Linked DNA regions of Homo sapiens: regions 1 and 2 are each reported to be linked to region 3. The links are microRNA targets in miRTarBase. Many come from high-throughput screens and were not tested one by one. Region 3 holds a microRNA gene; each other region holds the end of a gene's coding sequence.
What was found. Region 3 holds the annotated microRNA hsa-miR-1257 (AGUGAAUGAUGGGUUCUGACC, at 2,179-2,199, opposite strand). A microRNA usually pairs through its seed, bases 2 to 8, with sites in the 3' UTR of a target mRNA and lowers its output. Matches are read on the target gene's strand: a 7mer-m8 pairs with bases 2 to 8, a 7mer-A1 pairs with bases 2 to 7 and ends in A, and an 8mer does both.

Region 1: miRTarBase lists COL4A4 as a target of hsa-miR-1257. Seed matches in the 3' UTR shown: 7mer-A1 at 1,113-1,119 and 7mer-A1 at 1,375-1,381.
Region 2: miRTarBase lists VKORC1L1 as a target of hsa-miR-1257. Seed matches in the 3' UTR shown: 7mer-A1 at 598-604.

Annotation. Positions count from the first base shown.
Region 1 is chr2:227,004,524-227,007,871 of GRCh38, reverse strand. COL4A4 (collagen type IV alpha 4 chain) reads left to right here. Exons shown (of 48, transcript NM_000092.5): 48 at 284-3,348. The coding sequence ends at 547. Among named protein-coding and RNA genes, the nearest start is that of COL4A4, 160 kb to the left of the region's middle.
Region 2 is chr7:65,953,793-65,956,792 of GRCh38, forward strand. It overlaps VKORC1L1 (vitamin K epoxide reductase complex subunit 1L1), which reads left to right. Exons shown (of 3, transcript NM_173517.6): 3 at 282-3,000. The coding sequence ends at 508. Among named protein-coding and RNA genes, the nearest start is that of GUSB, 27 kb to the right of the region's middle.
Region 3 is chr20:61,951,443-61,954,790 of GRCh38, forward strand. It overlaps MIR1257 (microRNA 1257), which reads right to left and starts at 2,220; the gene lies at 2,104-2,220. RefSeq lists a silencer at 658-858 and enhancers at 846-1,418, 2,229-2,728.

The DNA of each region.
Region 1 (3,348 bases), not on the chromosome of region 3:
GGGATGCAGGGCCATTATCTTTTAAAAACACTTGTGATTGATTTTGATCACATTGGTAGAATTTAGAAGATGAGTTTGCTTCAGCCATCGGTGAAACTGGAGCCAATTTGTGTGCATACTTACCATGCTGAGTACGACTCCTTTTCAGCGCTTGTATTTTGTTCTTTATGGAATAATCTAAGGAAAAATGTTAAGATCAGACCCAAACCTGGGTGTGTCCCTGATTGGGTCTGGGGTTGTCTGTGTGTGTCTGAGCCCTAATTCTCTCTTGTTTTCTGGGTAGCACACAGGAGCTGGGGACCAAGGAGGAGGGCAGGCCCTTATGTCACCTGGCAGCTGCCTGGAAGATTTCAGAGCAGCACCATTCCTTGAATGCCAGGGCCGGCAGGGAACTTGCCACTTTTTCGCAAATAAGTATAGCTTCTGGCTCACAACGGTGAAAGCAGACTTGCAGTTTTCCTCTGCTCCAGCACCAGACACCTTAAAAGAAAGCCAGGCCCAACGCCAGAAAATCAGCCGGTGCCAGGTCTGCGTGAAGTATAGCTAGAGAATGCGAAATTCACCAACACGTGGCCAAGAGAAACTTCCTAGGGGGCTAAGACTTCCTAGACTGTGCTAAGAGATGTCATGGTGCTCATTTTGGACTCCCTTTCAGTGGTTCCTTCTGTTTTGTCGTGGTTATTCCCAGAGTCCTCTGGTTCCTTACACATTAAGCAAATGCTGCACAGATGGATTTGTTTGGACCTCCCAATCTAGGGAGCCTAGATACTCTTATTTTACTGAGGATGATCGAAGAACTGGCTTTACTTAAAAATATGCTAATTCTCAGAAAGGCAAGTAGATGATAAAGGCCAGATTACAAATTACATTACTGAAAACTTCATTCTTGGGTTAACAGTATCTCAAACAATTGAAGTCAATTACTCTATAATACAGTGGGCTTCTGGATGGATTTTATAGGAAAAAATAAACAGGTCAATGAATGAAACTAGAAAGCAGAGATTTTCAACATTTCAAAATGATTTCCTCTGTAATCTATTTTTCCATATACTTTAAATAATGGTAAAACCATGACGCAAAGAGAGATTTTTTTTTAAAGAAGAAAAAAAAAAATTCACACTGCCAGCGTTAACAGTTCCTTTCAAAGGAGAATGAATCATGATGGCAGGAAGGCCCACAGTCGCCGTATTCCAGAGATGCGACATTAGCATAAACACATCACAGATGAATATAAAACATTATGTTCTCTTCTGCATTTTTCAGAGAATAGAAATGCCTACTTTGGCAACCCTTTTGAAAAGTAGCAATTATGGAAAAAAAATATTCAATAAGAGATTAGGAGCCTAAAAGCTATTAGTGAATATTAAGGTAGTTATTCACAAAAATTGACTCCCCATTGCAGTGAACTTCCAGACAGACTGCTTTTCCCCAGTCGGGGTCCGGCGTGTCACAGGTGCGTGCGTGCTAATGGGACTGACGCTACATGGGGCTCACTCAGGCAGGCACGCGCTTCATACAAAGCATCTCACTCCCCTCCCCAGGAGAGCCTGCACAGCTTCTTGCACTCACAACGGACACTTTGCTCCACACACATAATGGCAGCTCACACAGGGACGTGACAGAGCTATCATTATGCACTTGGGAGAAAATTAAGGGCCGATTTAATTAAACTTAGGTAAGAAGATTCATTTAAGTCAGGGTTACCCCATCAGGAGGACATGGCACTATCTTTAAACGAAACAAAGACAATTTATAATTTGAATTTTATGCTCCCGTGGTTGGCTGTTACAGGAGCATCCCATTTTGCCAATTTTAAAGACATTCTTATATTTCATATCAGTCTTGTACCAAGGCAACAGTTTGACATTTGGCATTAGTATTTTCTAAAAAAGTTTAGAATGTGTGTCAATTTATAATGATTATTTTTTTCTGTAAAGCAAAAGATCCCTTTTTCTGTTTTGCTAGGAATTTGGTGATCTAATCCTAAATTTAAAAGATTTGTTGGAAAAAATTTTTAGGAAACTCACCTTCCTCATCTAAAAGAAAAAGGCATTTTAGAGAAAACTAAAGAAATTTCTCATGAGCGTGACACTCATTTTAGTGCTTTGTTTCCGTGCACTTAAAAATAATTGAGAAGAAAAACTCAATTAAAATTTTGTTTATAAGAAATGTTTTCCTTGCCAAACCTTGATTTGTAATGAGCTCTTATATGCAGAACACATTTCAAATGAGTTTTGCTATGGGCTGCCCCCAGGGTGGCAATTTATTTTAAGAGTATTTTCTGGTAAAAAGAAAAATGTGTATTTTAAGATGAAATATTTTCTTGATGTAGCAGAATATTTCCTAGTTCATTTGACCCATTTGATATTTTTTAAACCATGCTCTGGCATGTTGAATATTTTTGTGCACCTAAAACTTAAGCCAATTTCAATCTTATTTGTGATTACCTTTCTCCTTCCCAAAAAGCTTTATCTATTACCAAAAGTCAACCCTCCTAAAAGTTCAACCTGTTCATCTTGAACTTGGCCTGAGAACATTTTCTGGGAAGAGGTAAGGGTGACAAATGGAACATCAGAAACGTATCTTGCTTGCTAATTATTTTAAACACTTTAATGTTGGTATTAGAATATTATCTTCATAAGTTAATAAATAAGTAAAAAAAAAAAACCCACACAAAGACAGGCTAAATTATGTAGACAGTTTACTCCACAGTGAGCTTGGGAAGGTATCAGACTGTTCAAAATGTTAGTATTACAAGAGCTGTCTCTAAATGCAGCATTAACACTGCCCTCTAATTTTACAAAAGTATTTTAAAGGATCAAAAGGGCGGAAAAATAACTTCTTGGAATAGAAGATCCTGTTACCTTAAACCATTATTTTCTTCACCTGGTTATATATCAATGTGCCTTCAATTACCCTTTCTCTGTGGAGGTGATGAACAAAGCTTTTAAGTTGTTCTCCTAACCCATTATTGGAGATGATCCTTATCAAACCCTTCTCTCCCTGCCTCCCCACCAACCTTGTAGACTGGAACGTGCCTAGATTGCCCTAATGGGAACTGTTCTGTTCTGTGCCCGTGCTGGAAATCTGGGATGCTTCCTTCTGGGTTCTGATTCTCAGTGAGTGGAGCCCATTCATCCAGGCAGGTTTCCATGCTATGAGTGGCCCTTTCGTTCTGCTCTCACACTCCCCACATTGAAAGCTGAGTCATCGCTGCTTTGGATGGCTACCTCCTCTTTAGCCCCGTGCCCGTCTCACACAGCCTTTGTTTTCCACCTCCACCCTTGCAGTAGGCATCTCCCAGTTGGTGCCTTAGTTTCAAATCCCAGTTGCCATCTAAGATCCACC
Region 2 (3,000 bases), not on the chromosome of region 3:
GAGGTAGAGGTTGCATGAGTTGAGATTGTGCCACTGCACTCCAGCCTGGGCGGTAGAGTGAGACTCCATCTCAAAAACCCCAAAACCTGGCATTATCAACTGCAGAGTCAACCTGTATAATTTTAACAAAACAGAGCAGTATTTCTGTTCTCAATTTTCAGAGTTGGCAGGAAGATCAGTATTCAAACACTGCAGCAAGTCACACAGTGTTATTCCTTGTCACTCAGAAAGCCTCTCTCCAGCACCAAGGCCTGACTGAGCCTGCGTCTCTTCTCTTACAGGCATGACAGCAAGCGCTGTGGCGGCTTTGATCCTCATGACGTCCTCCATCATGTCGGTCGTGGGGTCCCTGTACCTGGCCTACATTCTGTACTTTGTGCTGAAGGAGTTCTGCATCATCTGCATCGTCACGTACGTGCTGAACTTCCTTCTTCTCATTATCAACTACAAACGACTAGTTTACTTGAACGAGGCCTGGAAGCGGCAGCTGCAACCCAAGCAGGACTGACGCCCGACAGACTCCACCCTAACAGTCTCAAGCCCCTTTCCATTCAGTTTATTTTGCAGCAGGTTTTTATTATTATTATTATTATTATTATTCACAACAGACACTTTCCCTAAGAATCTCAAACTGATTTTTAAAAATCCGGTAAATTAGAAGGGGCCCTCGCTATTTTCTGTGTCAGTCTTCATTTTAAATATGGATACAAAAAGGATACGCCGAGCCAATCAAAGACAAGCTTTAACTTTACTTTGAAGTGTTTCTGAAATGATAAAATGTAGCCCTAGCCCCCTGCCCTCAATTGTAAAGTGAGCAACCATTGCTAGTAATTCTTTAATGTGTATAAATTCAATTTCAGGTATAACAAATGTGATCATGACATGAAAATATTCTAGAATAGATACTGTATTAAATATTGCCATGTTTACAATATGTAATATGTTTTTAGCCGATGGATTTAAACATGTAGATTCAACTAGAATCCATTTGTGATATTTGTAAATAAAGGTAGAAATATTAGATCCATTTCTGCAGAACTTACTGTACAGTTTAGTTGGAGTGTAGCACTGAAGAACTGTCAGCTCAGCGTTGACTGAGGAGATAGTGAAAATAGCCTATACACAGCATCTTGTGAAAAGTACTGGCAGCCGTGGTTGCAGCAAATAATAGGGCAAAAAAAATAATAATAGGGTGGTCGGTTCCCTTTCATCTCCCTCTTCTGAAAGGAAAAAATTGAATTGGAACGTTCAAGTCCAGTTTGTGTTCAGTCATAAAACTGGGCCAGTTGTTAACCTTACAGAATGAGTCATGTGGCCAGACCTTCAAGTCCAAGGCCTTCAGACACTAAGGATGGGAAAATGGGTATTTTTCTTTGGAGAAAAGCTGGAAATATAAACATGGCATTTTTAGGTAAAGTTTCTTCCACTAGTTGAATTTTCATGCAGATATTTTTCCTTAACGTTGGTGCCAGTCAAGCAAAGAGTATTATGATGGAAAAGACCAGTCCAAGCCCCATCGCTCCGGAGTGGGAGCCAGTGTTCTTGCTAATTGTTTCTTTCTGCACTAACCACTCAGATGTCTAATTTAATTGTTTTGCAGTCAAATACTGGATTTGTAACCTTCAGGGCTGACATGCTGCCCAGTTTGCTTCATCGGGAGAATAGCAACAGGTAGACACATCTCAAGGCTAAATCTGCTCATGTCGCCACTGCTCTCATAATGACACACATGCAGTAAGAAGACTTTTGTAAGGGGATTTGAGTACACCCAAATGAAATTGTGACAGGATGTTTGTATGGTTAACATCTGATATCAGAATGTTAAAAGTGCCTTCTGTCTTAAATCTCAAACCAAATATTTTGTGTGTTGACCTTGGGCAGAAGAAGTGTCCTTCCCTCCTTTCTTCACCGTCAGGTAGAAAACCTGCACTCTGCAGAAGGGTCCTGTGTGATCACTTAATCCTCTGGTTGAGAAGCAGCAGTAATGTTTTTGCTTCCAACCTGATTAATCATTTTATGTTGAAAATAGTCAATGAGACCAGTATCTCTTGAGTGCTTTATTTGCCTTCTCTTTGAAGGGAGGGGACGGGCTCTGCTCTGTAAACTCAAATGTGTAGAGTCAGCAACAATTCCGTAGCTTCCAACTGACTCAGAATTGATGCAACGTAGGTCTTCTGGCCCGAGGCAGGTATCAAGTCCAAATCATAATGAACTTTTCACCAGTTTCAACCAGTTTCTTAAAAGAGAGCTTAAGTCAAGATTTCATCAAGACTTGTGTTTTCCCATGAATGTGAATCTTTCAATGGCTGTTGGAGTATGTATGTACTGTTCTTGCATTCTGAAGTAGTTAAAGAACTCTAGAAAGTACTGATTGGCCATCTGGTGTCTATGGAGAAAGAAGTCCTCACGTTTGAGGGCTGTACAGTGAGGCCATCTTGTAGCAGCGCATCCAGCTCTACCAAGGCAGTCCTCTGGTTCTTTTTTCTAAGCTACAGTGGAAATGGCCTAATGGTTAAAACTGTGGTATACATGACATCGGTTGTGCTAAACAAGTTCCTCGTGTCCCAATATCCAATGGTTTTTCATCCTATTTTGTATCAATCAACAGAGTATAGTTAAAGCTTGTCTTGATGTTGCATTCTTGCAAATGTCTTCAACTCTTACCTGAGAAAACATGGCAAAATGGTCAGCCAGACCCTTCCAGTTTTTCCTTTGCTTTTCTAAGCCTCGGGGAAACCACTGTTTCAGTTGTATAAAAACTTTTGCCACATTCCTATGGCCCAGTCGAATTAATACCCTTTTTCTCACTGAGAGAGGAACACGTACTGCCTGTCATAACAGCATTGTAATGCCAGTGTCTCAGTAACAGAATCCTGGTGGGTGTTAATTGGGTGTTTTTTGCCCTGGAGAATTCAGATTCCTTTCTATACCTCCGATTCTGCCCAGAAGAGGGGGGGAATCACCAGTGTTACAAAATTAGAAGATTGTTTTGCCTGTTTT
Region 3 (3,348 bases):
GCGTGAACCCGGGAGGCGGAGCTTGCAGTGAGCCGAGGTCCCGCCACTGCACTCCAGCCTGGGCGACAGAGCGAGACTCCGTCTCAAAAAAAAAAAAAAAACCACTCACACGGTTAATCATGGGTGCAGTTGATAATTACAGGCACAATTAACCACTTGCTAATTTTGAGGGTGCGAGCAGTTAATTACATTCACAATTAGGCAACTGCTGTAGGCCTGGGACCGGAGTCCTGGTGGGGGGACACTCCTTGTAATCAGACTCCCAGGGTGAGGCCCTGTGGTGGGGGTGAGGGTCAGGTGATCTGCGAAGCACCCCCCTCCCAGCTTCAAGTGGGGAGCTTACAGGCCTAGAGGTCAGGGCCTGGCAAACGACCTGAAAAATCCAGCTTGAGGCCCTTTCCAGGGAGCCCCAGAGGCCTTCTCTTGGGTCATTTCCCAGGATGGGGGTCGCTGTCACTCCTCTGTCCCAGGAGGATTCAGAGAGGTCAGTTCACAGGCCTATGCTGGGCAGAGCCACTCATCCACGGCACTGGCCACTCAGCCAGGTATTGACAGACCCACCCGCAGGGCAGACAAAAGAGGCATGGCCCAGCCAGCTGCGGGACCCTGCACCCCCCACTCACTCACACATGTGCACATGCACACACATGCACACGTGCAAACACACACACACGCACACACACACAGCCCTCCTCGGCTCACAGGGGGCTGCAGGACGCTGTCCAAGGTACTGACCTCCCTGCTGCTGGGCCCCTCGCTGCTGAGCCAGGCAGGGGAAGTCAGCTGGGCCAACTGGGAGGGTCGGGCAGGGACAGCACCTGAAATCCCTGCTCAGCCCCCTGTGCCGTTCCTGCCCCTGAGACCACGGCCAGCCACCCAAGGGCTACCCCTCAGCAGCCTGAGGACACAGCGCCGGCTCTTCATCTCAAGCACACGGAGGTGCAAGAGGGAGGGTCTGCGGCCTCGGCAGAGACAGCCGGATGCACTGAGACCCTGGCCTGGGGCAGGCAGGGGCTCCCTCAGGGGGCTCAGAAGGGGTCAATGCTGCAGACCACAGGCCGGCCCAGCCTCAGGCACGGTCCACCTGGCACAGCACACTTCACAGTGTTGAATATACTGTTGTATTTGTTTCCTGAGGTAACAAAGTCCCACAAACTCGGTGGCTTAAAAGAAAGACATTTATGCTCTCCCAGTCCTGGAGGCCAAAAGTCTGAGATCAGTATCCCTGGGCCGAAATCAAGGGGTCGGCAAGGCTGAGCTCCCTCCGGGGAATTAGGGGACGAGCCCTCACTGCCTCTTCCAGCCTCCAGTTCCTTGGCTCACGCCCACATCACTCCCGTCTCCACCTCCATCTTCACTTCATCTTAGTGTAACCTCCCTCCATCTCCCTCTTACATATGGACACTTCCCATTGGATTTCGGGCCTATGACTAGTCCTGAAAGATCTCATCTTGAGACCTTCAACTTGATCATATCTGCAGAGACTCTATTTCCAAATAAGGTCACCTTCACGGGCTGTTTTTCTTTTAGGGCGGTGGGGGTGGGGGGGGGGGGATTTTTCAGCTGACCACAATTGTCAACATTAAAAAATCAAGATATTGTAGGGGTCCCACCTAGATATTGAGGAGGTGGACAACAGGAGGACTGGGTCTCTCCTTCATCCCTCAGCTGCCAGGATGGAGGGTTTGGGGGGGGTCATTTCTTACACAGCTCCCAGTAGGAGATGCTGTGTAGCCTTGGGAGTGTCACTTAGCTACCTCTGGGCTTCCTTGTCTGTTGCTGGGACCGTGTATCAGCTAGTTGCTGAGTAACAAACACAAACACGATCTCAGCAGCACAGAGTCAGCATTTGGTTGGCTGGTCCAGGCCAGGCCGCTGGGGCAGCTGAGCTCTGCCCCCCACTCCCTCATCCTCCCCCTGACCAGCAGGCTAGCCACCCTCACTGATGGCAGCAACACAGGACAGCAGCCTGGTCACCGCAGCTCTCAGTTCAGAGCACCACATGCCCCGTGAACATCCCCTCAGTCAAAGCAAGTCACATGGCTGAACCCACAGTCAAGGGGCAGGGAATTAGACTCCACCCCCTTAGTGGGGGAGCTTCAGAGGCACAGGGCAAGCGTGGTTGGCAGGGGTGAAGGATGGGGCCAGTGATGCCAGGGGCCCACAGGGGTGCATGGGGGTCAGAACCCATCATTCACTCCCCAAGCACAAGCCCAGGGCCAGCTGGCCCACAGGTCCCCCTGGTGCCCAGCATCCCCCCGTCCCCCTCCCATGGGGTGGGGCTCGCATCCAATGCCTGGTTCCAAGTGTCCTCCTCATCTTACCTGCATGGTGACCATCCAGGACGCTCTCCCTGAGCCCGCTGCTTACTGAGTGCCACGGAGGCCTGCAGGGGGAGTGGGCACACACAGGAGAGACGCATGATTTGCAATCTCGTTAATGAGCCGTAGCACAATCACAGACCTGCCCTGACAAGGAGCTGCACTCGTGGTAACATAAAACTGTCAGCCAGCTGGGCGCGGTGGTTCACGCCTGTAATCCCAGTACTTTGGGAGGCTGAGGCGGGAGGATCACCCGAGGTCGGGAGTTTGAGACTGGCCTGGCCATCGTGGCGAAACCCCGTCTCTACTAAAAATACAAAAATCAGCCAGGTGGTGGTGCATGCCTGTAATACCAGGTACTCAGGAGGCTGAGGCAGGAGAATTGCTTGAACCCAGGAGGCAGAGTTTGCAGCAAGTCAAGATCATGCCACTGCACTCCAGCCTGGTGACAGAGCGAGACTCTGTCTCAAAAAAAACAAATTTTTTTAATAAAAAAAAAACCTGTCAGCCAACGAAGCTCATTACAAGCTGCTCCTCAGACTTCCTGTCAGCTGGGACTGCATCCGCCTGTTCAGCCCTTCCAGGCCTGGAGCTGGAGCCCAGGAGGGAGGCCAAGGGGTCCCACTGCAGCTGGGGTGCTGACTGTTAGCTACCAGCCCTTCCGTGGGCCTGTCAGGTTCAGTCTCGGATGCTGTGGGGCCCTGGGACCCCTCATGGGAAGCTGACTTGGACCGTTCAAGAGCCCTATCTAGCCCTCAGCAGGACAAGATCCTCTCAGCAACATCCCCAACACACACTCAACCAGACAGCCTGCAAAGAGCCAGTTCTGTATTTGGACAGCTCGGCTCCCCATGGTACCCTTGTACTCCATGGTAAACCAAAACAAGCTTCTTTGTAACTTCCACCTACTAAAACCATTCCATTACCACCAACTAAGACGGATTCTCCACCTGCCCATCCCAAACCTACCCCCAGGTGTCCCGTGTCTCCTTGTCTCCTGCATCTGCTGCCCACGTGCAGGCTGAGT